Regions from separate parts of the Homo sapiens genome. Here all the other regions are reported to be linked to region 1. Evidence: microRNA targets listed by miRTarBase, many of them from high-throughput screens and not tested one by one. Region 1 holds a microRNA gene; each other region holds the end of a gene's coding sequence.

The links. The annotated mature microRNA hsa-miR-4704-3p reads UCAGUCACAUAUCUAGUGUCUA and lies in region 1 at 6,032-6,053, shown strand. An mRNA with a match to its seed (bases 2 to 7 or 8) in the 3' UTR can be bound and repressed. Matches are read on the target gene's strand: a 7mer-m8 pairs with bases 2 to 8, a 7mer-A1 pairs with bases 2 to 7 and ends in A, and an 8mer does both.
Region 2: the mRNA of PPP6R3 is a reported target of hsa-miR-4704-3p. Seed matches in the 3' UTR shown: 7mer-A1 at 2,708-2,714.
Region 3: miRTarBase lists FAM53C as a target of hsa-miR-4704-3p. Seed matches in the 3' UTR shown: 7mer-m8 at 6,958-6,964 and 7mer-m8 at 8,427-8,433.

What each region holds. Positions count from the first base shown.
Region 1 is chr13:66,212,265-66,222,730 of GRCh38, forward strand. It overlaps MIR4704 (microRNA 4704), which reads left to right and starts at 5,986; the gene lies at 5,986-6,060.
Region 2 is chr11:68,610,431-68,620,896 of GRCh38, forward strand. It overlaps PPP6R3 (protein phosphatase 6 regulatory subunit 3), which reads left to right. Exons shown (of 24, transcript NM_001164161.2): 24 at 2,636-4,904. The coding sequence ends at 2,687. Among named protein-coding and RNA genes, the nearest start is that of GAL, 69 kb to the right of the region's middle. RefSeq lists an enhancer at 1-64.
Region 3 is chr5:138,341,080-138,351,014 of GRCh38, forward strand. It overlaps FAM53C (family with sequence similarity 53 member C), which reads left to right. Exons shown (of 5, transcript NM_016605.3): 2 at 105-334; 3 at 730-787; 4 at 3,746-4,530; 5 at 5,623-8,650. The coding sequence starts at 257. The coding sequence ends at 5,880. Among named protein-coding and RNA genes, the nearest start is that of KDM3B, 6.6 kb to the right of the region's middle.

The sequences.
Region 1 (10,466 bases):
CTGGAACTGCTCCCTAGCCCAGGGAAGGGATAAATGAAAGACTTTGAATAGCTCATCTGAGAGAGAACACTGGGATTCAACAGAGAGGCAATAAAAAATACAAAGCGTGAAGGAGGGGGAAGCAGGGTTGCTCAGTCAGGATTGCTGGGGCCTGGAGCTGCTCCCTAGCCCAGGGAAGGGATAAGTGAAAGACCTCCAGGGCTCCACATTTCTGCCACAGACCTTTACAATCCAGCTACAAGAGAGCCCCTCAACCCTCACAGGCCTCTACTTGGCATAGGAAGCTGCCTGGAGATCACAGAGAGACACTGCTCTAACTCATGTAAAGTCCGACTGGCTTCCTAGCACTGGACAACTGCAGCATGGCACCATTCTGGGTGCCTGTCTACTTCTATTCAACTTAGTACTGGAAGTCCCAGCTAGAGCAATCAGGCAAAAGAAGTAAAAGGTATCCAAATTTGAAAAGAGGAAGTGAAGTTAGCTCTGTTTGCTGAAGATATGATTTTATAACTAGAAAACCATAAGGTTCTCTACAAAAGACCTCTAGATTTGGTAAATGACTTCAGTAAAGTTTCAGGATACAAAATCAACATACAAAAATCAGTACCATTTTTATATATCAATAAGAGTCAAGCTGAGAACCAAATAAAGAATTCAATCCCATTTACCATAGCTATGAAAAAATTAAAAACTAGGAATGCAATTAAACAAGAAGGTAACAGATCTCTACAAGAACTACAAAATACTGCTGAAAGAAATTGTAGATGACATACACAAATGAAAAAACATCCCATGCTCATGGATTAGAAGAATCAATATTGTTAAAATGACCATACTGCCCAAAGCAATCTACAGATTCAATGTAATTCCTATCTGAGTATTGACATTATATTCACAAAATTCGGAAAAAAAAATCCTAAAATTCATAGGAAACAAAAACAGCCCAAACAGCCAAAGCAAAATCTTAACCAAAAGAACAAAGCTGGAGGTATCATATACCAGACTTCAAGTTATACTATGAGACTACAGCAACCAAAACAGTGTGGTACTCATATCAAAACAGACACAGATCAATGGAACAGAATAGAGATTCCAGAAATAAAGCTACACACCTACCACCAACTGATCTTTGACAAAGTTGACAAAAATATACACTGAGGAACAGAGATCCAATTAATAAATGGTCCTGGGGAAATTGGATAGCCATATGTAGAAGAATGAAACCTGTTACCATATACAAAAATTAACTCAAGATGTATTAAAGACTTAAACATAAAACCTGACATTATAAAACAGATTAGAAGAATACCTAGGAAAAACTCTTCTGGACATTGGTCTAGGCAAAAAATTTATGACTAAGTTCTCAAACGCAACAAAAACAAAAATAGACAAATGAGACTTAATTAAACTAAAAACCTTCTGCACAGCAAAAATGTAATCATCAGAGTAAACAGAAAATCTGCATAAAGGGAGAAAATACTTGCAAACTATACATCCATCACAGGGCTAATATCTAGAATCTAGAAGGAACTCAAACACCTCAACAAGAAAAAAAATTACCCCATTAAACAGTGGGCAGAGGATATGAACATTTTTTTCTCAAAAGAAGACATACAAGCAGCCAACAAACATGAAAACAGGCTCAACATCACTAATCATCAGAGAAATGCAAATTAAAATCACAGTGCGATATCCTCTTACAGCAGTCAGAATGGCTATTATTAAAAAGTCAAAAAACAACGGATGTTGGTGAGGATGCAAAGAAAAGGGAATGCCTATACACAGTTGTTGGGAATGTAAATTAGTACACCCTCTATTGAAAATAGTATGGATATTTCTCAAATAATTAAAAATAGAGCTACCATTTGATCCAGCAATCCTACTATTGAGTTTATACACAAAGGAAAATAAAGTATCATATCAAAAAGACAACTGTATTCATGTATTTATAGCATCACTATTTACAATAGCAAAATTATAGAATCGACTTAAATGTCCATCAGTGGATAATTGAATAAAGAGAATGTTATACACACACGTACATACACACATACTCACACAAAGATATATATATATATATATATATATGCAATATACACTGTACATATGGATATAGTTCGTGGAAAAATAAACATTGGAGTCTTCAAAAGGTGGGAGTGTGGGAGGTGGGTGTGGTATGTGAAATTACCTATTGGGTGCAATGCACACTGTTAGGGTGATAGTTATGCTAAAAGCCAAGACTTCACTACTATATCTATGGAACAAAAATGCACTATACTCCCTAAATCCATAAAAATTTTAAAAAATTAGAACCTATACAGCCTGATGCCCTAATGTAGGAAGTGAAAAAGGAAAATGAAAGATGACTTCCAGGTGTGTGCAGGTGCTATTGATTAACAAGAAATACTGGAGAAAATGAGTAATTATGAGAGAACACATTGAACTCAGATTGAGAACTTTTTTTATTTTAGATGGCTGTTAAGCTTTGGAGCTACATCTAAACTGAAATAAAAATTTGTAATAACAAGCAAATTATTCTACACTTCTTGGTTAACATTCCCTTTAATATCCAAAGAAAGTTGCTAGAGGCCCATTCCATGTAATTATAAAAGTCAAAGAATTTCATAAATGTTGTTAGGCTTCTAAAGAAGTTACTCTCATGTTTTTCTACCAAATTTTTGTTTCAAATACATTATTGATTTGCACTTGTTTTACTTTCTATAGTGGCTGCCCTTCCTCTGTCACTTGGCCACTTCTGAATGCTTTGACCTTTCTTCCCGTTTCCCAAAGCTCCACCAACAAGGTTTGTGGTACAAGTTGACTATCTCTTATGCAAAAACTTGGGACCAGAAGTGTTTTAGATTTAAGATTTTCTCAGATTTTGGAATATTTGCATTACTATTACTGGTTAAGTAGCTCTTTTTTGTTTTTTGTTTTTTAGATGGAGTCTTGCTGTCTTGCCCAGGCTGGAGTTCAGTGGCACAGTCTCAGCTCAGTACAACCTCTGCCTCCTGGGTTCAAGTGAGTCTCCTGCCTCAGCCTCCCGAGTAGCTGGGATTACAGGCATGCATCACCATGCCTAGCTAATTTTTTCTACTTTTAGTAAAAATGGAATTTCGCCATGTTGGCCAGGCTGGTCTCAAACTCCTAACCTCAAGGGATTCACCTGCCTCGACCTCCCAAAATGCTGGAATTACAGGCATGAGCCACCCTGCTGGGCCATACATCCCAAATTTGAAAGACGATTTTCTTTAAGCATCAGGTTGGTCCTCAAAATGTTTCAGATTTTGGAGCATTCCAGATTTCAGATTACCAAATTTGGGATACTCTGCTTTAATACGAACTTTTCACTGCTATGTTTGATAAATAACAACAATCACAAAACAACATAAAAAAGAAATCACTTAAATATTCAGTATGACTGTTAAAAATTTTCTTAGCTACCTACACCACAGGGACCCTCTTCATGGCTGGATTTCTTTTTCTTTTCTTTTCTTTTCTTTTCTTTTCTTTTCTTTTCTTTTCTTTTCTTTTCTTTTTTCTCTTCTCTTCTCTTCTCTTCTCTTCTCTTCTCTTCTCTCTTCTTTTTAGGCCAGATATTGTTCTATCACTCAGACGAGTGCAATGGCATCATCAGAGCTCACTGCAGCATAGACCTCCTGTGCTCAAATGATCCTTCCACCTCATCCAGCCAAGCAGCTGGAACTACAGGTATGTACCATCAAGTCTTGCTATATTGCTGGGATTGAACTCCTGGCCTCAAGCAATTCTCCCAGCTCAGTCTCTCAAAGGGCTGAGATGATGAGCATATGGCACCACAACCAGCCAATATTTCTCGTTAGGTCTCAAGCAGTCATTGAATATCTGCATCCATTCTGCTTCTCTAAAAACTTCTTTACACATCCCTTTTTGATTTTACTATTTGACATCTCTAAAATCTCTTTCTTTTTAAGAGCCAAATCAATAAATGAAGAGACTAATTTCACTGTCAATGCCTTGTCGTTCTTCACTTAGGAGAAATAGGGTAAAAGCAAAACCTCATTACACTACTTTTCTCAATCAAAAACTTTATCAACTTCAGGTTTCCATTCTTACTAATACCAAGAATCAAGAAAACATTCATTTGTTCTTAACTTAACTAGCTCAAATTCTCAGGAAGATGTGTTGGCTACCAACTTGGATTTGTCTTGATAGTAGAATGTGTGGTTCAAGTTAGAGAGTACACGAGAAAATCCAGGGTCAACTGGTTATTTAAAAAATTCTCACTAAAGAGTTTAGTGTCAGAAGAAATGATTTATCAGACTCTGGAACACAGAAAGAAGTACCTAAGAAGAAAAACACCCAACCTCACTAATATGATTTTCATTCTGTGCACAAATAGGTTATTGCTTTGAAACAGGTCAGAGTCTTGAGCTCCAAACAAAGTGGAGCTGTGACTGTGAAGAGTGTGTGTTGATGGGTGCAGAGGTAATGAGATTGCAAACTCAGAAGAAAAGCAAAAGAAAAACAAAAATGAAGAAATCTTGGACTGATGCCTATTTTTTTCTTTCTGTAACTGCGGCCCTTTTTGGAGGAGTTCTAACGATGGGTTAAACCACAAGGAGAAAATTAAACTTCTCTTAAATGTAGTTAAAATCCCTAGAGAGACATGAGTTTGTCACGACTGCCTGAGAAGATATTGGCTGGGATTAAATATTGAATGTGTCTGCCAACAATGACTGCCTGACGTGACACACGAGAGTTTCTCAGTGAGGAAAAAAAAGACCATGTAAGAGTACATGGATTTTATATTTTTCTGTGACTTAGATGTTGGTACCATTTATTAGACGAAAAGAAAAGTGCTGGAGCAGTTGGGGATTTTAAGAAACTACAATTATTGAAATAAGAGCTAAGTGTGATAGGAGGTAAAACCAACTGGGGATATGTAAGAGGTTTGCTGATAAATGTTTAGGGCAGTGGGGAAATAGGATTCCATAGATCCTTTACTGCCAGCAACCTGGTTACATGCTTTTTCTTGATCATAGATAAATAACTTAACTGTAGAAGGTAAGAAGACAAATGGAAGGAGTTAACAGATATTTGAAGATATGCAGATGGTGGGAGAAAGTTCAATGGTAATTGAGAATTGGTTCGCTGACAAGAGGGTTTTCCATAAGAAATAGTCTCTCTATTGGTTTAGAAAAAGTGTAGGACATTAGTAATAAGCTTTTGAATCTCCAAATTATGCCCAATAAATATTCGAATTAGAGTTGCTTCCAGACAGAGATGCCATTCATTTGGGAAGTTTCCCACCCCCCTTCAAATTTCTGAATGGGACAATAGAGGTAGAACCCAGACAACTGGGACATCTTCATAAAATATTCTTGAACATTCATGAGTTGAGTTTAGTGCTATTTGGAAGGAAACTGGTAAGCCTGAGAAAGGCACTAAATTGATAATGAAACACTAAAAAATAGCTTATAATTTGGTGGCATTAATAATTTCAGGTACTCTTTTATGTTTATCTACATTATACCATTTAATAGTCAGAATATACCTATGAAGTAGGTACTATTATTATTATCATTCTACAGATAAGGCAGATAAGGAGATTGAGACACAGAGATATTAAGACTCATACTTAAAGTCACACAAGCAAACGTTAGAACCTGGACTTCAGAGATCTGGCCAGGATCCTGTTCAGTACTTTCGATGTTACTCTAATTCTTCTCTAATTTGGGTTTGCTTCATGAATGTTTCTATATGCTGACATCTTTAAACTTCTGTTTTCTTATCTTTAAAGTTGGAAAAATATTTTATATTTTTTCTGATTATCTCTTGCTCCATAGTAAATTACCCTAAAACAGTAGCTTAAAACAATACCTTTAATTGATTTCATTCACACATTTTTTTCTGCCAAGCCTCGGGCAGCAGTCTTTCTCGAGTCTTTTCTATGGTTGTAGTCAGTTGGTGGCTGGGACTGGAGTCATCTTAAGGATGAATCTTCTTATCCTAGACACTAGGCATGTGAGTGATTGTCTTCCTCACTCAATCAGTCACATATCTAGTGTCTAGAATGAGAAGACTCAAACATCTGGGGGCTAGAACACCTCTTGTCTCTTGATCATCTCTCTGTGTGATCTCACCATGTGTATATGTGATCTCCAGCTGGCCTCTCTAACACATAGTAACTTCAATGAAACCAGACTTCTTATATTGTAGCTTAGGGTTTCAAAACCCAAGACAAAAAGAGCCAGGTAGAAACTGTATTGACTCAAATAACCTAACCTGAAAAGTCCTGTAGTGTCACTAAATTGTACTCTATTCCTTAGACAATTCACTAAGGTCAGTCCATATTCAAGAGGAGGGGAGTTAGACTAACATCTTGAGTGTGGTAGGCTAAATAATGCCTCCCACCCCCCACAAAAGATGCCACTTTCTAATCTCAGAGATCTATGCTATGCTTTACATGGCAAAGGAAACTTTGCAGATATGATTAAGTTAAGGATCTTGAGATGGAGAGATTATCCTGGATAATCCAGGCAGGCTTAATGTAATCACAAAAGGTTCTAATAAGAGAGAGCAGGAGAGTCAGAGTCAGAGAAGGAGATGAGATGACAAAAGCTGAGGTCAGAGTGAGGCCAAGCCCAGGCAAGGCAGCCTCTAGAAGCTGGAAAAGGCAAGGAAACAGATTCTCAACTCAAGCCTCTGGAAGGCTGGAGCCCTTATTTGATTTTTGATCCATTTTGGACTTCTAAATTCAGGAAATGTGAGATATTAAATTTGTGTTGCTTTAAGCCATTTACTTGGTGGTCATTTATCACAGCATCAATAGAAAACAAATACAAGAAGTATCAACTAATTTGTGGGTAGATTTTAAGACTATCACATCTATCATCCTCTTTGATTGGTTGTTCACTAAAAACCCTGTATTATGTGTCTTTCATGTGCTAGCATTGGGTTATATCCCTAAGGATTTAAAGATAAATTAAACATGATTCTTTTCCCCATTATGCTCATAGACAGTATTTATGGAAGGACTTTGTGCAACTCTAAAGGGTAATATAAATGTAATATATTGTGAGTCACTTCCAAAGTTTAATATGCAACCCAACCATTCCTTAATTTACTAAATCGTAAATCAGAATCAATATTTCAACAGATTGGAATTATGCATATATTATGAGTAAATTGCAAACAAATACAGAAGATAATTTGAAAATTAAATGTCAACAGGATTTGCAATAGACATTTACCATGTCTCAAAGTAAGAAAACCTGTTAGAATAAGTATACTGTGGGCAATCTCAGTGTTACAAGGCTGCTAATGAGCCTCTAGTACACTAAGAGACAGCCCCTAGGGATGAAAGGGGAGGATGGCTTATTCTTTCACTGAACTCTTAACTGAGGCAGCTAACAAGGTGCCCAACTGTGATTTAGACACATATCCAGTAGAAACTGGAGATAGAGTGTTAATTTAGTTTGTAAGGGTCACTGAACTAATTCCATTAGGTGACAACTTATGGTCACTACTGATAGGAACAAGAATACAAACCCGAAGCCAAAAAAGAGGGAGAAGAATTTCTTGAACAATCTCACTTACCAGGAAAAGCAATGAGAAAAGAAGCAGTCACTCAACTGAGATGCCTATTTTTGTTATGATATTTAGGTCCTGGAACACCTTTCCACACATGACAGTCACAAACAAAAATATGTAGTGTGACTAGAATATATAAACAAGGTCATGAAAATAAAGTTGATATCCACTAAGCCTTTTTTTAGAGAGCTACATCCACTTCAATCCTTGAAGAAAGTTGTCTGTTCAAAGGATAACAACTCGCAGGGTTAGATGTTAAGAAAGGGGAGTTATCAAGGAAGCTTACAGAAGGGATATTCAGTGGTCTGTCTTGGGTACTGGTGGGCTCTCTTTCCATAGCACAGCTGCCGGCAGCTGGCCAGCACCTCAGGCAGGCAGCTGGTAGGGGAAGAGTGGCCTCTGCCAGCTGGCACTAAAAAATTAAAATTAAAATTAAGGGAAAAAAAAACCCACCCTGAGGCACAGATGCATAACAATCAAGCATTCAGTTTCTGGTGTTCTCCCTTATTCTTCAGTCCTTAGGGAAGCCCAGCAGTGAGGTAGCTCCTCTCTCCCCAACCCAAGGTCCCCAGGCTGCTTTTCTCTGGTTTAGATTCCCTTTTTGGAGGTTTCTCTGTGTTCATGCATCCAAAACACAGTTCTTGAATCATAGCATGTGCCAAGCAATGTGCTAAGGGCTGAGGATGGAAATATAGAAATGAATTACATTTCCTTACTTCCATCAAGGTGCAAATTAAAAGGGCTATAGCTGATTTTTAAATGCCCATAAATAACGACAGAAAGTTGGATGACCATAGTGCTTACGAAACATAGAAGAGAGCCCACAGTGGATGAAGCAAGACAAGTATCACATCAAAAAAGAATAAGAATTAAGGCTTTCTCAGCTGAACAAATGGGAATAGCCTCTTTAAAAGGAATGAACATGAGGAAATAATGGAGGCATAAAATGGAAATTGAATTTTAAAATGTTACTGTACTGTTAGAGTACAGTCTGAGCTGCTACAACAAAAAGACCAAAAACTATAGAAGCTTTGAAATGTCATATATCTCTCTTTGATGGTATGTTTCAGCCAGATATGGCTCATAGGACAGCCCTGTCATCCTCAGTATGCAGTTTCTAGCTTCTGGATTACAGAAGTTGCTTGAGCTCTTGCAATCATTCCTATATCTCAGTTGGGGAGGAAAGGGCAAAATCCCCTCTTAAAAGAGCTACATAAAAGTATTATCTCCACTCACATTATCTCCACTCACAGAGAGCTTCAAATGAAGCTGGGGAATGCAGTAATTTGCCGAGTAGTCTTGTGCCAATCTAAAACTTAGGAATTCAATTAAAAACCAAAAGGGATAATTAACATTGGTAGAAAGCCACCCTCAGTTAGGAATAAAAAGTAAATCTATGTAAACATAGTTCTCATTCTTCGTGCATAATGAGTTTTATAATTTTCTCTGTAAATTATTTCATTCAAGATTTACATTCCCTGGGCTATTACCAGGACTGAAATATGAATCATTTAATGAACTATATATATCAGAGATAAGTTTCGAACAAGACATTGTGGGAAGTATTGTGGTGATAAAAAAATATGCTTAGGTGGACTCTAATAAAAATGGAATTTTAAAATGACAAAATATTATCATGGAAAATGAAGAGATGAATACACATTATTAGAGCCAGTAGTGTTGTAAGTTGGTCATCAACCTTCTTGACTGATTCATGGTACTCACTATAAAATAGACCAAATAGTCATAAAACTTTATTCTGTCAAGTCAAGAAACCGCAACTAAAAATAATTTTGTTCAACCTCCATTTTATCCTATCTCTCAATCTAGCCATCAGATTTTGATCTATGTAAGCCTCAAGGTAATACATTATTGCTCCTAGAGTCACGGTATATTCCATATAGTCACATTTCATGCATAATGAAGATGGCAGTGAACTACAAAGGTTTTTATCAACTCAAACAGGAATACTAATGTTGTCTAAGGGCAATTTATGGTATGTATTTTAAAAGAGTAAAAAAAAAAAAGTAGTTTTTAGGTCAATTCATATGTAGGGAAAAATTATATGACTTGGAGACATTTTGAAAAGACAAAATCTTTACCTTAATGGATTTTAAGATTCCTCTCTATTTCATAAAATTTATTTTTCTTCAATATACATATATATGAAAGAACGTATTGACAATTTAAAACTCACAAAACAAAGGTTTTAGTATAGATATTTTCTTTTTAAGTATTTGATTGCCTATTTTATGCAAGGCATTTTGCTAGATATTAGAATACAATATTAGATAAGTCATTTATCTTAATTTGGATAATTTCGCTGTAAGGATAAAACAGTCATCAAAAATAGATCAAATTAAAATAGTATGTTGTTAGAGATATTAAGAAGCAATCCACACTCATTTAAGAACTAAATGTTCACAAGGTTGGGCTTACTCAAGACCAAGTTGTGAAAGGTTTCTAGACTCAAGGAAGCCCTGGGGACCTTAGCAATATGTGGCGACTTTCACTCTAGTGTCCTCCCCTTAAGTACGACTCAGATAATTAACAGAAGGCTGGGTTGTGTTCTGGGTTTTGTTTTGTATTTTGGTTGTCATTCTATTTTCCTTTTCTGTTTCTCTACCAACTGACAAATTCATTCTAATATTCTTAGTTAAAATTGCCAAGAACAGGAATCCGATTCATGCAAATTCTTTCCCAGTCCCTGCTACAAATCATAGTCCCTGTCTTTAGTTATGTAGGTAGGTGAGTTCACAAAGTATAGAATCTCATCATTTATAGCAGATAGGCCCTGGGGAATTAAAGTCAAGGTTTTGATATCATGAAGTATACCTGCAAGCTGTTTTAAATTGTAAATTGACAAAATTCTTCCTGAGCAAACATTACCA
Region 2 (10,466 bases), not on the chromosome of region 1:
CCCACATTCCTGCCCTGTGTGACACAAGGAGAACTTGCTGGAGCCCTTTCATACATGTAGCTAAATAATTCTTAGTGCTTAAGTGACTCCCTGTAATCTTAAGTATGAAATGCCCACTCCCAGAGCTGTGTGACTTAGAATGTGATGTTTTGTTTCTAGTCACTTTTTGCTTAGCCTGAGCCAGTGGTCTGAAGGGATGGGCCAGTCTAAGTCTCAGCCACCCGGAGCCCATGCCAGGCCCTTAGCAAGACTGAGCATGGCCCAAAGATGAGGCTGCACCCCTGGGCCACAGGAAGCTTTGTTCAGCACTTCCCACAATCAACTTCTGTGAACAAATGTAGCTAAGATTGTATATTCCTTCCATAAGGAATAAAATGACCTTTAAAGCTATTTCAGAGAAGTTTTAACCCCCCACCCCCACCCCATCCTCCCCCAAATCTTGCCAGCATTGTATGAGAGCATAACCAGTGGGAACCAGCAGGGAGCACTCTTTGTTGGTCCAAAATCCTGTATTCACAGTGTAGCAAGCTGTTTGTGTTCCTCCTGTGGAAATTGTAGCCAAAATAAAGCCTTTGTTTTTGTGATTAGAAATATTTTTTTTGCATATAAAACAAACAAATTAAGAACTATTTGAGCATGTTGGCTCTAGTGAAGGCTTTTGGGGGAAGAGGCAGGGTGGCCCTCTAGCACTGGGAAGCTGCCTCAACTCTGCTTCTACGGATTGGGCAAGTCACTCTCTTTCTTGGGGTTTCAATGTATTTTTTAATGGTCCTTTATAGGTCTCATTCCCAATCAATTATTTCAGCTCTCTGATTTCTACCTATAAATTTCCTTTATATTGAGGGCTGCCTAGGCAGGATCGTCCAGGTCTATCCCAGTTTGGGGCAGTTGCTTCAGGGGAATATTCTTGGTTTCTCTGTCATAAGGATGCACAAGGCTCTGGAGTCATTTCCTTGGCTTTCTGAGCACAGAAGAATTGTTTGCATAAGGGGAAGCCACTTGCTCTCCTCTGTGGCTGGGAATGCCTGCTCTGAAGAGCCCTGCCCTAACCTGCCGGGCCAAGGGATGGAGGAAAAGATGGGGTCAGCCAGTGGAAGAAGAGGGGCATCACTTGGGTCCATGCCTTTATCCATCTGTCCTTCTTTCCTCTGACACACGTTTGTGTGTGGTGGCCACTGGTCTAGGCCGGGTCATAAAGCTGCAGCACACGGACACCCAGTGGTCTCGGGGCATACTAGAGGCACATTCATCAAGAAGCCACGAAGAAGGGACAGGGGTCCATGTGAGCTGGGGTGCGGGGGAGAGGATCTCTGAGGTGACGTTGGAGTGGGCATTAGGGCAGACCTAGAGTGCGTCCTAGATTGCACGTGTTCTAAAGTGACGTATGACAGCATGGGATATTGAAGCTCACCCGTCTTTCCTGTGTGGTTCCCGTCCCAGCCAGATACCACAGTTCCTTGGATTGGCAGGCGCGCTGTTTCCTGTCACACTTAAAGATCTGCATTGCCACATGATCTCACTTTTCACAGCTGTTTTATCAAGCATGTCCTTTGTGCTTCTGATGTGCTGAGCATGCTGCACACATTATGTACTTATTTCATATGTATACTAGTGAAGCCCTGTGGGGCGTGGGGAGGGTTCTTTTCCCATTTTACAGAGGAGAAAACAGAACTGAGAGGGGCTAAGAAATCTACTTATAAGATCACTCAGCTTGTTTAAGTGAAGGCAAGTTAGTTATATACCAGTTATGTCTAGTTCCAGAAGTCTCGATTCCTATGTCTCTCATACACGGAGCCACCATCAGATGTAAGTAAGTGAGCAGAGTGGATTGTGTGTGCAGAGCTGACTTTTTGGCTCACTGTATAACCAGCAGGTATAAGGCATGAGTAGCATTCTAGCTGTAAATTGTGAATGCTAGTGGAAAAGTGCTTGTGGGCATCCCAGTTACGGCCCTAAGCACCCTTTCCCAAGTCTGCTTGATACAATTTTGGTCAAGCCTTCCCGAATAGGTTATATATTCAGGTTGTAATTTTGGCAGGAAGGCAAAACCTGGACACTTTGTTATATACTGTCCCACCTGTTATTCCCTCCCAGTTTTGAGCCTAACATTTGCTTTGTGGGACATGTTCTTCAAGTGGACACCTTTTTTTTTTTTTCCAGTAGTTTATTTGCAAACCTCCTTTCCTTTCCTTTTTTCCCCCCTTTCCTAGTAGCAGAATCCTGTTTCCAAGTGAAATAGTATGTGGATTCCAATCTGTGGGTCACATAAAAGCTTTCTTGAAGGAGCGGTGAACACATAGCTCCTGAAGGCTCTGGAAGCCACAGTTTATACCCCACTGACCTAGTCACTCCCTGTGCTTCTTGGAGGCCGCGGTGGGGCGGTTCTCCCAGAGCATTTGCTCTGCTGCTGCCCTTGCTGAATGCCTGCTCACCCGGTGATGAAGCTTAGATGCACTCACTCAGATTTTTCTAGAGCTTTTGCTCCATTCATTTACATATCATTTTATTAAAAACTTACTAAGTTCAAAACAATGTTAAAATAAGTTGTCCCTGCCCTTGGGGAGCTCAGCTAAGTAGGTTTTGTTTTTCATATTTCTGCTGCAAGTGCCTCCGATGCCTGTCTGTTGCTCCTTAGGACTGGCCAACCAAGCGCACCAGGTGACACTTCAGTGAATGGCCCTGTATGACGGGTGACGTCTGCTGCTGCTGACTGAGGACTGCAGACCGCCACCACTCAGGGGCTCTGGAGGGGTCAGCTGGAGCCCACCAAGCTGTCACTGCTGCACTCACTCTGCAAGGGATCAGGACCAGCAACCTTTATATTCTAGATTCTAAGACATTGTACAGAGAAATTCAGAAGTGTAAAAATATTGCACATTGACAAATACCAAGAATTTTTGCGTATGTTTATATTGTATTGTTCTAAATAATGGGTAGCCTGTGAAATAAGATCTTGCCACCCATGTAATAATAGTAGTAATACTATAGTTAAAATGGCTGTAAGAATAGTTTTATAAAAGTGAATACACAGATCTATTGTATTTGAAACATAACTTTGACAATTATTAGTGTGACCAAAGTATTAGGCGGTTTTCATACATTTTTCACCTTGTACAAAATTATGAATTCATTTTTCCTCCAGGCCGACAAGGAGTTGTAGAATGAAAATGCCCTCTAAGTGTTATTTTGGTTGTTCTAACTTACAAAAGTGATTTTGAATAAGAAATATTTGGTGTTCTTTTTATAACCAGTTTTTGATTGGTAATTGTTTTCTGTATTGTTTAAAACGGATCAAAAATGTAAGTCTATTGGTAGAGATTAAGTAAAGTATTTATTGCTACATCATAGTTGATAAATTGATGTTATCGTAAAGCCATATGTTCTGTTCAAGTCTTGTTTGCTTGAAATGATTATTCCTACAAGTGAAACACTAGACTATTTGGAGTGTATATGGCTTGTGTTTTGGGATTTTTTTTTTTTTTTTTTGGCTTTTGTTTTTGTTTGTTTTTTTGTTTCATTTGGTAGTTCATCTGCCTTTTAACCCATTCACCAAAATTTACCTTGTTAACAAGCATCACCAATGAACATTTCAGAGCAATCTGCATATTTAACAGACCTAAAATAAATCCTATTAGGCAAGTCAGTTGAAAATGCTCGTGCTGCTAATGGAATTAGAGTGCGTTCATTTTACAGGCTAGTATTTTAAAAGTAGAAATCAAAATCTGGCACCGAAGCATGCTAATTGTTTACTGTACCTTGTGAGGTTTTCACTCATAAATTTAAACCAGTGTATTTTTTTAGAACTGGTTTGTGTATATATATAGTGATTATGGATACTAATTCAATGTAATTTATAATTTTCTATGTCAATACAAAAATACATCACAGCCTTCTCAAACAGCTCAAGCAATATATTGTATATTGCCATATCGTCTGGTGAAAGGGTTAAATTACTTCACCTCTTGCACTTTTAGATGCAAATCAGTTTTTCATTTCTGTAATAGAAAATTATTCACGTATTTTTACATCATTTGTTTTTCCTGACCAGTATTTAAAACCAAAAGGATATTCTGAAAAATGGCCAACAATTTTTTTAGAAGTAGCATCCCAAGCAGCGTGCCTAAACATTACATTGCATATGGAAATAAAAGAATCAAACGTCTAATGCCTTATTATTTCTGATTTCCTTTTTCATTTTAAGTGGTGTGGAGATTCCAGCACTCCCAGGACAGTGGAGTCAGCAGTAAGCCCTGGGACAGGTGGCAAGGGTGGGTCCCTTGACCTTTGCACGCCTCCTCAGGAACCCCCTTTCCCGGGTGAGCCCCTCTCTGAAGAGACTGTCCTTGGGCCTCCTCTGGAAGCAGCACCCCCAGAGGACAGGGCTCCTCCTGCTTGCCTCAGGGCTGCCTGACTTGAATGGCGTTGGACCTCGGGGATTACTGGTAGATAATATGCTCTGGTCTCGCCTGGTGGTGAGTTTTGCCAGCCATGGCCAGGGTTTGGCTCCACTGGTGGCACACGTGGCCTCCGTGGTATGGACCTGGTGGCTTCTCCATCCCACTGTGGCCTCTGTGGTATGGACCTGGTGGCTTCTCCATCCTACCCAAGGTAACAGTGTCTTGCTTCATCCCACTGACTGCTGGGAGAGAGCCTCTGGGACTTTTCTTTGGGGCATCATTTTGTTTTGTCTTTCGTAGCAGGGAAAGGATATGACAATGGGGAGGACAGTTCTTTTGGAGGTTGGAGGGGCCAAGCCAAGGACAGGAGCAAGTGTGCCCTCATTTTGTTTCTACTTTTAATTTCTGTGTGTTGGCCATACTGAATTATGAGACTAACAGATGTCTACAATACAATACCTGTATTCAAAATAACAAAAATAAAGCCTGATTCTTTGTTTCTAGAAATCTCTTGTACCTTGCTTGGATTTTTAATGGGTTGATGTGTCCTGCCATTAGGTCCCGTGTTACACTAGGTCCTGTGTGAGAAAGACTGCACTGCACTGTGTGAGAGAGTGGCCTCTGGGATCAGGGGCTCATCCTCCCCACTGCCATAGCCCAGGTGCCCAGAAGAGGTGGTGCCTGACACCGGCTCTCAGTCTTGGGACGGCTCCAAGGGTTCCTCTGGACCTCCAGCTTGTTACTTTTATGTGCAGCGTGTCCCACCTATGTTGTTTGGCTCCCAGCCCAACAAGTCACAGTTAGGTGCTCCATAATGATTCTTAAGATGTGATGCTTATGTAGCTCCTTATTTTGCATTTTCCCTTCACCTGTTTGCTTAAAAACATGTTCTCTAGTCATTACCTCCTAGCAGGTCCTCTGCACAGCCTTTTGCTTTCTGGGCACGCATGCATCCCTCCGTGCCTGGGCCCACAGGCATCTCACACAGCACTGAGTACACACCTCTGCATGCTGGGCCCGCAGGCAGCTCACTCTGAGCTGTCTGGGTACCCACCTCTACATGCGAGTCCATAGGCATCTCACTGGCAATCGTGTAACCAGGGCACAAGCTCTCCAGCCGGGTGGCTCATCACAGCCCAACTCAGCCACTCATGATGGTGTGACCTTAGGCAGGTCTTGGTGTCAGCTTTTTCTGTTGGGTGGGGAAACAATAGGAACAAGTTCAAAGACTTGAATAGCTTTTTACTTACGGTAAATGTTTAACAAACATTAGCTAACTTTTACTCACTTAACCCCATAATGTCACCTGCTAGCCTTTCTAAATTTCCACTTCAATCCCACCTATTATTTAAAACCTTTACCTTCAGAAAAGTTGAGCATCTTAATCAGATGGGTTTCACTGCCCTTCAGCTTCCAGGGTCAGCTGCATCCGTGTGCCAGGTCTGGCCACCACCTGTGTCTGTGAATAAAACTGGCTATCCGTATGGAAAGACATGAGCCTTTATTCCTACTGCACGTCATACACAAGAATTCATCCAAAATAGATTGCAGATCCAAACATGAGCGCTTAAACAGTGAAGTTTTTAGAAGAAAAAATTATCTAAAATGTGGGATGGGCGAAGGCTGCTTTGGATGCAGAGCACATACCGTAGAAGAAAGACATCGGGCTTCCATCAACGTGAAAATGTTCTGCTCTTGAAAATGGACAAGCAAGGAACGGAATGCCAGGCAAGAAATCACACTGTGTGTCCTGACAAAGGACTCAGACCTCGGATATAGGGGAGAAAACTGCAAACCAAAATTAAGATGAAAAGCCCAATTTAACAAATGAGCAAGAGACTTGAACACAGATATTCACGAAGAAGGGACAGATGTTCCCTGACTTAACGATCCATGCCGGCCACTTCCCCTCGCGATGGCACAGCTGGCTGGGACTGCTGCTCCCTGCCACCGCTCAGTACTGCAGGAGGGCACTGTGCTGCGCATCCATCACCAGCCCAGGAAAAGATCGGAATTCAGAGTGTGGCTTCTGCTGAGAGCTTAATGCTTCCGAAACGCCATCGTAAAGTCCAAAAACCTGAAATTGAACCGTCTTAAGTCAGGGACCTGTGTATACATGAGTGGCCAATAAGAACATGAAAAGTTGTTTAACATCATCACTTCCTGGGGAGGGCAAGTTAGAATCACAAAAAGGTCCCATTTTCCATCTATTAGTGTTCAAATGAAAAAGACATCACCAGATAGGAGAATGTGCAGCTGCTAGAACTCACCTATTACTGTCTAAAATAATACTTCCAGTTTAGGAAACTAGTGGGCAAATTCTTTTTTTGGTTTGGAGGTTTTAAAAAATTAGACATACTCCTGCAGACTCTCCTAGATACTCAGTGCAAATACATGTCCACAGGTGATTTGTACAAGGATATTTATTGTCACTTTATTCGTAATATGTCTAACAACAGGAGGGTGGATAAGCAGATTCTGGTGTAGTCATACGATGGACTTCTACTTAGTAACCAACGGGGGTGAACCGTGATGAATGCAGCCATGTGTATACGTCTCAAAAACGTTGAAGGCTGGACACAGTGGCTCACGCCTGTAATCCCAGCACTTTGGGAAGTCAAGGCAGGCAGATCACCTGAGGCCAGGAGTTGAAGACTAGCCTGGTCAACATGGCGAAAACCCGTCCCTACTAAAATTTTAACAAAAATTAGCCCAGAGTGGCGGTGCACACCTGTAATCCTAGCTACTCAGGAGGATGAGGCACGAGAATCACTTGAATCCGGGAGGTGGAGGTTGCCGTGAGCTGAGATCGTGCCACTGCACTCCAGCCTGGGTGACAAGAGTGAGAACCTGTCTCATAAATAAATAAATGCGTTAAGCAAAAGAAGTAAGATATGTAAGCATCTATACGAAGCTCTAAAACCGACCAAACGAATTGATGGGAGAAATTCGAATAGTGTTTTCTCCTGGCAGGGAAGAGAGAAGGATTGGCTGAAAAGAGCACAGGGACACCTTCTGGGGTGAGGGAAGTCTTCCGCAGCTTGTTGGTGATGGTGGTTATGTGAACGTATACATGTGTCCAAACTCATCAAAACCTACACTTAAGACCTATGCATTTGATTGTATGTGATTTGCACCTTAATCTTTTAGAACTAAGGAAAAGGAGAAGTTAAAAGTGCAGCATAGAAAGCATTGTGAGGGAGAACACCCCCCATGGCATGCACCGTGGCCCCGGGACTGCCTTTCCTACCCCGCCAAGGAGGAGAGACCGAGGAGCAGGGCATGCTCTGGGCTCCAGCCTGGATTTGCCCGCCCATGGAGAGGACACGTTCCGGATCGTCCTCTTCCACACAGTAGACTCTGTCCTGCCGAAGGGAGAAGTCTGCATCCCTGGGTTAGACACGTCTCATGGAGTCCTCTGCCCGTGACCAGGGGGGGACATTTGTCTAATCCAGGGATGAAGTCAGAGAACTCATCCAAACCATGCCCCTCAAGCAAGGTTTAGTTTTAAAAAGAAAAGGATGTTGAATCCATTTGTCCGTCGTGCCTTATTTCCCAGAGGGCACTTCAGGAGGGCTGAAGGGGGCATGACCACCTCGCCAGGCATTGTCACAGGAGGCGGTGGGAAGCAGTGGTTTGTATGGAGGGAGTGATGTGAAGATGGGAGAACAGGCCGTGCCGGCTGCTGCTTCCCTTCTCGGGGACAGCCACGCTCTGACCGCGGCTCCAGGGCTGCATCTAATGGTTCAAAGGCCCAGTCACGGGGTCCTGTTGGGAGGAGGTGCCCATGCCCTGGCCTCATGTTTCTCTGTGGGATCTTGGCACTAGGTGAGTGCCCTTGGCCTCTCCACACTCCACTCTAATGGGAGCTTAGTGACTTCACTGAGAGATTTTGGTGAGGATTTGCATTTTTGGTTCAGTCAAAAATGCTTTCTAGGCTGGGCAGGGTGGCTCACGCCTGTAATCCCAGTGCTTTGGGAGGCCAAGACGGGAGGATTGCTTGAGCCCAGGAGTTTGAGACCAGCCGGGGCAACACAGTGAGACCTCATCTCTGAAAAAGTAATAAAAATTCAAAAGACAAACTAAGAAGTTCCCCCCGCCCATTTGTCTTTCAAGTCCTAATTCTCACTTGTTTCTGAACCTTGGTGTCCTTTCCTAAACAAACCAAGAAATACATTGTTACACTAAATCTGTTTTTTCTCTTTAGAAGACAGGTGGTCAGATTGGGGTTGAAACTAGAACCCAGGAATATGCTGTTGATGTAATAATCATAAAAGTGACAGGCTGAAAATAAGTGGATAGAAAAATAGGGTACAAGCAGAAAATAAGAGTATTCATATCAGGCACAGCAGAGTTTAAAAGCACTGTGCAGGGGTAAGATGCTCTTCATCAAACTATAAATACCGCAGTGGAACAAAACAATTAGAAATGCAAGGAAAGGGTCTTGTTTCTAGCTGTAAGAGTAATTTTATCAGAACGCACATCCTGCCAATGATGAAAGTTGGGCTTTTTAAAAACCAGCTTTAAACTTTTTACAACTAGATTACTTGAGCCCAGGAGTCCAAGACCAGCCTGGGGAATGTGGCAAGACCCTGTCTCTGCCAAAACAATTTTTTTTTAATTAGCCAGGCGTGGTTGTGCGTACCTGTGGTCCCACCTACTCGGGAGGCTGAGGTGGGAGGATTGCTTGAGCCAGGGAGGTCAAGGCAGCAGTGAGCTGTGATCATGCCACTGCACTCCAGCCTGCGTGACAGAGCAAGACCCTGTCAAAAAAAAAAAAAAAAACACACACACAAACGAACTAGGAACAGAAGGAAACTACGTCAACGTAAAAGCCATACGTAAAAACCCACAGCAAACATTTTACTCATTAGTGAAAGACAAAGATTATCCTCTAAGAGCAAGAACAGGGCAGGGATGCCCTCTTTCGCCACTTCTATTCAGAGCACTAAAAGTTCTAGCCAGAGAAATTAAGAAGAAAAAGAAATACAGGGCATTCAATTTGGAAATGAAGAAGTAAAATTATCTCTGTTTGCAGATAATATGATTTGAAAATGTAGAAAGCCCTAAAGTGTCCACACACACACACACACACACACACACACACACACACAAACTATTAGAACTAATAAATGAATTCAGCAAAGTAGCAGGATACAAAGTCAACACACACAAATCAGCTGAGTGCGGTGGCTCACACCTCTAATCCCAGCACTTTGGGAAGCTGAGGAAGGAGGGTCACTTGAGCCTGGGAGGTTGAGGCTGCAGTCAGCTATGATCACATCCTGCACTCCAGCCTGGGCAATATTGTGAGACCCTGCTCAGAACACACATGCACACACATCAGTGGTGTTTCTATATGATACCAATGAAGAATCTAAAAAAGGAAATTATAAAAATAATCCGTTTTACAATAGCATAAAAAGAATAAAATACTTAGGAATTAACCAAAGAAGTGAAAGGTGTGTACAATAGAAACTACGAGACACGGCTGAAAGAAATTAAAGAAAACATTAAGATATGGAAACACATTCCCTGTATATGAATTGGAAGACATAACATTGCTAAAATGTTAATACTACACAAAGCATCTACAGATTCAATGTAATCCCTATCCAAATCCCAATGATATGTTCTTGCAGAAATAGAAAAATCTATTCTAAAATTAATAGAGAACCTCAAGGGACCGTAAATAGACAAACAATCTTGAAAAAGAACAAAGCTAGAGAACGCATACTTCCTTATTTCAAAATTTACTACAAAGCTACAGTAGTCAAAACATTATGGTACTGGCATAAAGAGAGACATATAAACCAGTGGAATAGAATAGAAGCCCAGGAATAAACCCTGGCATTTATGGTCAAATGATTTTTTTTTGAGACATATCCCTCTGTTGCCCAGGCTGGAGTGCAGTGCAGCTCACCGCAACCTCCACTCCCTGGGTTCAAGCGATTCTCCTGCCTCAGCCTTCTGAGTAGCTGGGATTACAGGTGTGCACCAGAACACCTGGCTAATTCTTTTTGTATTTTTAGTAGAGATGGGGTTTTGCCATGTTGGCCAGGCTGGTCT
Region 3 (9,935 bases), not on the chromosome of region 1:
AGAGGCCTGGCTTAGGGGTGCTGTGGTATGTGTGCCATGCATTTTCCATCTCTGGACCAGGTGCATCTCTAATATCACTTGGGGCTGGTCCCTCTAATTGGCAGACTCAGCAGGCATGACTGGAGAGGGAAGTCCCAATGGTGCTAGAATGGTGCTGCAGTGGCAGAAGACGGCTCACAAGTGAGGTCTGGAAGAACAACAGGGAAGACATCCATCATTTGCTCCAAAGTGTGCAAGTCAAATCCTGGGGAGAATCATGATAACCCTGATCACTGAGCAGCTACAGAAGCAGACTCTGGATGAGCTGAAATGCACACGCTTCAGCATCAGTCTGGTAAAAGACCAGTCTTCCTGCTTCTCCACGACCCCCTCCCCCTTTTTTCTGAGGCTGATTGTTGCTATTACTTTACTCTTGTCCTGTGCTGTATGAATCATGGTACTTAACCTGGAAGAGCCCACTAATGGCTCAAAACCCAGCCCAAAAGGAAGGGGGCAGGGATTTTTCCACCGATAGAGAAGGGACAGCAAAACTTGGGTGGAGAAGGGTTTGAGATGTTGGAAGATGTGGATTGTTTGACTTACTAACTTTGGGAAGACAAGAGGAAGAACACTTAATGTCCCTAACATCCCTGTAGCTCATGAATCGCAGAGGAGAACTGAAGAGGGCTTCCTAGAAATCTGTCAGTGTGTCCTGAATCCAAATCATGATGGATATTCTCTCTTTCTTAGCCTTTGCCTGATCATGCAGACATCTCCAACTGTGGGAACTCTTTCCAGCTTGTGTCTGGTAAGGCATCGTGTGTGTTTGTGTACGTGTGTGTACCCATTCCTCTCTCCACACATTTCTATCATTGGTTTCCAGTGACCAGGGCTAGCGAGCCTACCTCTAGAACCTTCTTGCCAGGGTCAACTTCTGAGATTGACAGTTGTCTTTCATGTTCTAGCATGAAAGTTATCTGGTTGGTTTGCTCTTATTCTAGCTTTGTGGGGACTTGTATAATCTAATTTTTTGAATAGGTAATACATTCACATGGTTCAAAATTTAAAAAATAACAACAAAAAGGTTATGCTGAGAAAAGTCTCTCTTACTCTCCCGTTCCCTATCTACCCAGCTTCTACCACCTCCCTAAAAGTATTAGTTTCTTATACAGTATATGTGACTAGAATTTCTTTATATAAAAAGAAGCAAATGTATATATTTATTTCCTTTCTTTTTTAAGTTCTCGGATACATGTGCAGAACGTGCAGGTTCGTTACATAGGTGTACATGTGCCATGGTGGTTAGCTGCATCTATTTTATTTCCACGTTTTTAACACAAAAGGTTGCATACTATATATTATTTTGTACCTTTAAAAAAAAAAATGGGACCGGGCCTAGTGGGTCACACCTATAATCCCAGCACTTTGGGAGGCCAAGGTGGGCAGATCACCTGAGGTCGGGAGTTCAAGACCAGCCTGACCAACATGGAGAAACCCCATCTCTACTAAAAATATAAAATTAGCCAGGCGTCGTGGCGCATGCCTGTAATCCCAGCTACTCGGGAGGCTGAGGCAGGAGAATCACTTGAACCCAGGAGGTAGAGGTTGCGGTGAGCCAAGATTGCGCCATTGCACTCTAGCCTGGGCAACAAGAGCAAAACTCTGTCTCAAAAAAAAAAAAAAATTGCTGGGCACAGTGGCTCATGCCTGTAATCCTAGCACTTTGGGAGGCCGAGGTGGGCGGATCATGAGGTCAGGAGTTCGAGACCAGCCTGGCCAACACAGTGAAACCCTGTCTCTACTAAAAATACAAAAATTAGCCTGGCATGGTGGTACACACCTGTAATCCCAGCTACTCGGGAGGGCAAGGCAGGAGAATCACTTGAACCCAGGAGGTGGAGGTTGTGGTGAGCCCAGATCATGCCACTGCACTCCAGCCTGCACAACAAAGCAAGACTCCATCTCAAAAAAAAAAAAAACAAAAAACAAAAAAAACTTTAATATAGCTAGGAGATCTTTCCCTATCAGAATGCTGAGTATTCATTCCCTTGTTATATATAGCTACATATTATTACACTGCATAGATGTACAGTGGCTTATTTAATGAGTTTTCTATTGATGTGCATTTAGGTTATTTCTAATCTTGTTTGGATACATAAAACTGTAGTGGGCCAGACGTGGTGACTCATGCCTGTAATCCCAGCACTTTGGGAGGCCGAGGTGGGCAGATAGCATGAAGCCAGGAGTTCGAGACCAGCCTGGCCAGCATGGTGAAACCCCGTCTCTATTAAAAATACAAAAATTAGCTGGGCATGGTGGCAGGCGCCTGTAATCCCAGCTACTCAGGAGGCTGAGGCAGGAGAATCCCTGGAATCCAGGAGGCGGAGGTTGCAGTGAGCCGAGATCGCACCCACTGCACTCCAGCTTGGGCAACAGAGCGAGATTCCATCTCAAAAAAAAAAAAAAGAAAGAAAAAAGAAACTGTAGTGAATAACCTTGTACATATGTCATTTTTTCACATGTGAAAATATATCTGAGGTATAAATTCGTAGATTATTAATTACTGAGTTAAAGGGCCCCTGATCGTAGGGACATTTAGATGGAGGCATCACTGGTGGACAATCAGAACTCCCTAACTCGTGCTGCTCAGCAGTTCTGCATCTCATTTTCTTTTCTGGGATACCTAGCAAGGGAAGTGAGTTGGCAAAAACATGTTCATTCAGTCTCTTCCTCCTGTTTATTAAAGACTTGCTGAAAGCCAGGTATTGTGTCATAAGTATAGAGCAGGAACTCATGGTCCCTGCCCTCATAGTGGTTAGTAGAGGGAAGAACTATAGACCAAATACACTCAGTATGAATTTTGCCACCATCAAGTCTGACTTCGTATACTTGTCGTTTGCCCCAAATATCCAGCCCCTGCAGAATTCCAGCCAGCTAGCCAGAGGAGTTTGGATTAGGCCCTTTGTCCCTTAATGAGCCGTCTCCCAAAAGTCACAATTTTGGTTGGAATACAGTGAGTGAGGATTGTTTCTTTTAGTCCATTTTCCCTTCCTTCTCTTGGTCCCTCCATCTGTTTGGATTTAAGAGAAGGCCTAGGGGAAGGGAATCGGAATATGTGGGTGGCCAGACAGAAACGAAGATGAGCAGCACAAAGTCAGGGTTTCCCAAGCCCAGGTTTCACTGTCAAAGGCCTTCCCCACCCTGTTTGCCCTCCCTAGGAATAAAAGTGATCTCTTACCTGCCTGATTACCTCTTACTTCTTGGCAGTCCTAACTCCTGACTTGGTGCTGTTGACACATGAGAGGAGGAAAGGCCGAGAAAGAAGAGCATAGGCCTGCTTTTCAGCATCCAGGGCAAGCGTGGGGGAGGGGCGAGGGAGAGATGAGCAGGACACTCACAAACGTGTTTGTTTCTCTTGACTTCTTTTACCTTTGAGAGGGAGTGGCAGGCAGTAGATGAAATGTTTTTGATTCCAGGTAGTTGGTCACAATGGAGGCAATAGAGCATAGTGGTTTAAAAACCTAGCCTTCGCATCAGACAGACCTGGATTTGAATCCTCCTTTGGTCTTTTGAGTGCTATGTGATTTTGGGAAAGTTATTGAATTTCTCTTATCTGTGAAATGGGGATAATGATAACGATACTACCTACCTCATAAGGTTTTTGGAAATTTTCACATAAAATGCTCCATACATTATGTGGCAAATGGTAAGTTCTTAAAAAATGTAAGCTATCATTAATATTATTCTTATTATAAATGCCTTCCAGAAGGTGCTTCCTGGAGGGGCCTGCCCCACTGTTCCTGTGCTGAGTTCCAGGACAGCCTCAACTTCAGCTACCATCCCTCAGGCCTGAGCCTGCACCTCAGACCACCCAGTCGGGGAAACTCCCCCAAGGAGCAGCCCTTCTCCCAAGTCCTAAGACCTGAGCCCCCAGATCCAGAGAAGCTTCCTGTGCCCCCTGCCCCTCCATCCAAGAGGCACTGCCGCTCACTCTCAGTGCCCGTGGACCTGTCTCGCTGGCAGCCGGTGTGGCGGCCCGCCCCCTCCAAGCTGTGGACTCCCATAAAGCACCGGGGCAGTGGTGGAGGGGGTGGGCCGCAGGTGCCTCACCAGAGCCCCCCAAAGCGGGTCTCCAGCCTCAGGTTCCTCCAAGCTCCCAGTGCCTCTTCTCAATGTGCCCCAGCTCACAGACCCTACAGCCCTCCTTTCTTCAGCCTGGCCCTGGCCCAAGATTCCTCTCGACCCTGCGCCGCCTCCCCTCAAAGTGGCTCCTGGGAGAGTGATGCTGAGTCCTTGTCACCTTGCCCACCTCAGCGCCGCTTCTCCCTGTCACCCAGTCTGGGCCCGCAGGCAAGCCGCTTCTTGCCCTCTGCCCGGAGCTCTCCCGCATCCTCCCCAGAGCTGCCCTGGCGACCTCGAGGTCTCCGCAACCTTCCCCGAAGCCGCTCACAGCCTTGTGATCTGGATGCCCGCAAAACTGGGGTCAAGCGGCGCCACGAGGAAGACCCCCGGCGTCTGCGGCCTTCGTTGGACTTTGACAAGATGAATCAGGTGGGACCAGCAAGACTAGGGGAGCTTAGATGGGAGTGTGGGGACTGTTCTGTTTCCACTTTTGAGCTAGCCCCTAGCTTCATTACCCTGCCGCCCCCACCACCAACAGCACCTCCTTTAGCTCTTAGCTAGGGTGACCTACCATCCCAGTTTGCCTGGGACTGTCCCAGTGTTAGCACTGAAAGTCCCCCCATCCTGTGAAATGCCTTAATCCTGGGAGTTAGAGAAACTGGGGTGAGACCCATGTTAAACCTTCCAACAGAGATCCCAAATTGTCCTGCAAGAGGTACTTTCCCTCCTTTCCAAGAATGCACAAGCTGCAAAAAATTCCATCAGTACCTACTCCTTGTGCCCAAAGCTGTTTTTGCCACTTGCCTGTCACTGCTTCAAAGTGGGTCTGTGAGGGCTGAAGCAAGATGGGCTGCTACAGTGTATTCATCTGTTAGACAAATGTTTTTTGACTTCCTGGTGTGAGTACAATTATTGTATGTATGCACTTTGCTCACTTTTTTCATATTATTCTTTCTAGACCACTAGGTTACAAACCTCTTTAAGAATTAATTAATTTTTTCATACAGTCGTCCATCCCATCTGCAAACATTTACTGACTCTGACTAGGCACTGGCAGTACAAAGTAATGAAACACTGCAGATGATGTTCCTGCCCTCACGGAGCTTCTATTCTTCAATTCAATGGAAACAATGGGCTCCAAATTTTGTCAGAAAGTTTACAAACGCCAGGCATGGTGGCTAACGCCTGTAATCCCAGCACTTTGGGAGGCCAAGGCAGGCGGATCATGAGGTCAGGAGATTGAGACCATCCTGGCTAACACGGTGAAACCTCGTCTCTACTAAAAATATAAAAAATTAGCCGGGCGTGGGCCGGGCACCTGTAGTCCCAGCTACTGGGGAGGCTGAGGCAGGAGAATGGCGTGAACCCGGGAGGCAGAGCTTGCAGTGAGCCAAGATCACGCCACTGCACTCCAGCCAGGGTGACAGAGTGAGACTCCGTCTCAAAAAAAAAAAGTTTACAAACCTCACCCTAAAGAATTCTTGCCTTCAGGTGTAACTGTCTTCTTTGTTTGTTTGACAGAAACCATACTCAGGAGGTCTTTGTCTCCAAGAAACAGCCCGGGAAGGCAGCAGCATCTCTCCACCATGGTTCATGGCCTGTAGCCCCCCACCCCTCTCTGCTTCCTGCAGCCCCACTGGGGGTTCCTCCCAGGTGCTGAGTGAAAGCGAAGAGGAGGAGGAGGGGGCTGTGCGGTGGGGTCGGCAGGCGCTGAGCAAGCGGACACTGTGCCAGCGGGACTTTGGGGACCTGGACTTGAATTTGATTGAGGAAAACTAAAACTGAGAGGCTACTTCCTGGGGCCACACAGACTGACTCTCTCATGGCTACTAACAAGTGTCGAGTCCCCAAGGCTGGGGGCCGAGCCTGGGAATGGGGGTGAGTGGAGGGCTCCGACTCAGGGCAGCTGGAAATCTTCTCGCTCCAGCAAGCTCGACCATGCCAAGAGACTGGCCGGGACAAGATAAACGGAGCTGGTGGCGGGAGGGACAGCCCCAGAGCAGACCCTTCCTATGGCGGCCCTGAGTGTGAGTATCCCTGCCACCAAGAGAGCAATGGGCAGGGAAGGAAGGGGTCTGCCGACCCCAGCTCGGGGAATTTCACTAGCCCCTTTGCTTCAAAGGGCACTTGTGTCTTAGAATTTGGCCAGGGTGGGGGGTTGAGTCAGCCTCCTCAGAGAAACTGCGTGAGAGTGTGTGCGTGCATGGGAGTGTACTTGTGGAAAGGTGTGTTTGCGTAGCCTTAGGGAAGGAAGGCAATTGCTCCTTAACAGCAGAGTATCATGATACCCCCAGGATCTTGAGTTTTTTACAGGATGTTGGGTTTGCTCAAGGAGTCAAGAGGAGGGCACCAAGTTTTCCTTTTTTCTAAATAGCTCTGGAACCAGGCTTGTAATCCATAGCATCACCGACTCTGCAAAGGATTTCATTTTGGGGTACAGCAGGGTGTTTTAAGTGCTGTGACTTCAGCTAATGATCTTTTCTTCAGCCCCACCCCCTCCCCACTAGCTCGATCTAGTATATTGGGGAATGCAGGTGGGGGGTGTCACCATATTTTTTCTGAGCTGGCCTTTTTTTCTCATCAGATTGTCCAGGCTATATTCCACCTGCCTCTTTTGCCCTCTTGAGTAGAGTTGCACACAGCACATGGGCAACTGAAGCAGGGTTGAGGGGCTCTCTCTCTCTCTCCTCTGCTGATGGGACCCTTTTCCCCTCACCCTCTGCCCTTCTAAGTCATAGACTAGGTAGGAAGGCCCTATATTGGTCCCCAGCATCTACTGAGGCAGACCTGCAACAGAAGTGGCATTCAGTCCCCAGCAGACATGGGTGAGCTCACCCCAGCACTGCTGTTGGGAAGGTGACTGCAGGAAACCAATTCTTACAAGATCCAGGCCCAGCCTTTTTGACCTGCTTGAGAGGGAAGAAGGGGTGTTTAGCATTTAATAGTTTGCTTGTCTTCCACTCCTGCCAGGAAGTGTTTATTTGCCTCTAATTGGGCCTGAGAGACCATAGGGAGGTTGGGGCTCACTGAGGGATTGGCTGAGGATGTATAAAGCAAAGGCTGTGAGAAGCAGTTGGGAGTTTGGTTGTCATTGGATTGAATTTACTTTTTTGTTTCTCACCCGCAACTTGAGCCAGGACAGCTGGTCCAAGTGGCCACAGTGATGGGTTTAAGTACCTTGGTAGGGCTGGCACCAGTGGAAACACATACTGAAGCTGCCACCACAATAGCTTGTGAGGTTTTATCCAGCTGTGGTTAGACCCTGCATGACCAAATTTGACCTGCCCTTGTTTATGGCAAGAAGGGCATTTTTCTCTTCAATTTCCAGGGTTTCCTAGGACCCAGTTCCTCATGTAAGGGAGGAAGACCAAGGTCTTTGTGTTTTCTTCCTCATGGAATTGAACCTGACATTTTCTGGATCTCCTGCATGTCAGGAGCATCAGTGAGGCTTCAGCCTCCTCGTCTCCACTCCAGAGAGGAGGTGGCTATGTCTTCTTAAGCCTCTGGCCCTCAGAGGCTCCTCCCTATCTCCTGGCTAGTTACCACTAGGCTACCAGGTCTCTAGGGGCCTGAGAGAGGCCCTCTAGAGAATCCAGGGAAACTGTGAGCCCAGGAGTTGCCCATCTATGGTTTCATTCCTCCCCTGGCTCTTCTCCCTCTTCAGGCCATAATTTCCCTGGTGCCAATTTCTTTTCCTCCTGGGGCATCCTCATCCCAGGGCTCTCTGCTGTAGATTGGCTGTGCCAGCTTCCAACAGGTTACTGGCAATGCCAGTGAGTTTCTGTAGGCCCTAAGCTGAAGAAGTGAGGCAGTGATTCTGCCTCCATCCTGGTTTCCCCAAAGCCCCAGGGCACCATCCTTAGGGGAGAAGGTCTACAGTTATCATTATTTTAATTCCATTACTTTCAGTCTGGAAAACTAAGCTAGTCAGAACTGTCATCTTGCTTCCCAATCTAAGAACCTGTGGCCCTGGAACACTTTTCAAGAATTGGTTCATTTTGCTTTACACAGTAGATCTGTTCCAACAGTTCTGTGTAAACCAAATGCTATTTTTCAATGCATTTGGACTGCTGACCATTTAAAAGCAGCCTATGATTGCTTCTTTTTGTAAAGCAAGCAACCTCCCTCCACTTTAGCTGTTTTGACTATTTGAATTTTCACATATTGGGCTTACCCAGAGTGGAGCACACCTCCAGGGCATGTGGCTGACACTGGGTCAATGTCTGCATCTGTGCTGTGTGTGTAGTGTGGTTGGCCAGTAGGTGAGTATCCCTGTGTGTGTGAGTGAAGCCACTCCCCAGGCTGGTGCTCTCCTCCTGTGCCCAGTGACTGCCCAGTGGCAGCTCAGCTGCCCTTCACTCCCACCTGCTGCCAAAGTCCCTGTGCTAATGGGATTACAAATACAAAAAGTGGAAAAAAATTTTCGTAAACTTTGTTTTATATTAAAAGAAAAATCCATAAGTCTGTGTGTGTTAAACATGAGGTTCTGCCTCTGTGGCTGTGTTTGAAAAAATAAAGTTTTATTAGAATAATCCATTTTCCCAAGCAACCTTGTGTACTACAGTGTCTTCTTCCCTTCCCCACAAAGACAAGGAAGAAGCAGGGTAGAAGGCCACCTAACTGTTCCAGCCCCTTCATCTAAGATGTGGGTCAACCTTTCAAAAAGGGGCAGTATTTGGACCCTAGGCCCTTTGCCGGCCATGGCAGGATGTTATACTGTGGCCCAGGCTTCTGCTAAGGCCTTGGTTATTTTTGGCAGTCTGGTTTGGTCTCTCTTTCCCTGGCAGTTATACTTGTCTCCTCCTGCCTGCTGTCACTCTCACTTCCAGCAAGTTGAAGTCAAGTATGAATGCATTCCAGCTCCCTGAGAAATGGTTTATGGTACAGTCAGGAACTTGTCTAGATTGGTTTGTAGGCTTTGGGAAGTAGGGAGAAGGCAGGGTGGGAGACAGCCAGGGATCTTTCTTAAGTTTTCACATGTTACATCCTGGAGAGATAGAGGTTTAGTCATCAGAATTCAGATTCCATAGACCTAGGCAATTTTTCCATCCTAAAAATACTGCTTTTGGAAAATAATCCTAGCTGCAAAGCTTCTCTTTTGTTGTAGAAGACAGTATTTTCCCTAATGTTTCCTTTGGGAGTGTTGGTTTGCCAAAAGAAGCTATGTGGCTCACTCTTTAGACCTTTCTGTTCCACCCTTTCTTCTCTCTATGTTGACATTCTTCCAATGTGTGTGGGTGAAGTGTAGTTGCTTAGAGATCCAGGCAGGAGCCTCTGTCTCTAAGGCTTAGCCTTTCTTTACCAGTTGTGGTGCTAATTTGCCAGGCAGCAAGAAGAGTCAAGTTGCTTAGCTTATGTCCTGGTTTCCTGCTTCAAATTGGTGGCACTCATCATTGAATACCAATGAAGTGTGTGCAGGACAGGACTGACTTGACTACCTGGAGCAGGAATCTTTGCAGGGGTGCACATACACCCTAGAAAAAGTGAGGGTTGTCACCTGCCCTGGAAACAAAGGAAGGGCTTTGGGGAAGTGGTGGGCAGTGGCATGTGGTTAAAGAAGCTTAGAATTACAGGGTTTTTTTTCTTTAAAACTGATGTTTCATTTCACCTACTGCTTGAGCAGGGGTAAAGTTTGAACATCTAAAATGACTTTGTTTCCCCCTTTTTTTCTTTTGAGTTTATTTTTGTTGGATTTTTCTGCTATTTTCTGTGAGGCCAAGTGTGATTTTATTTTTCATTCCTGAAGTCTTGTTAATATAGGAAAGAACGTAAACTCCATGAGGGCAAGAGTTTTGTTTTATTCAATATTGTGTCCCCAACACTTTGGGAAGTTC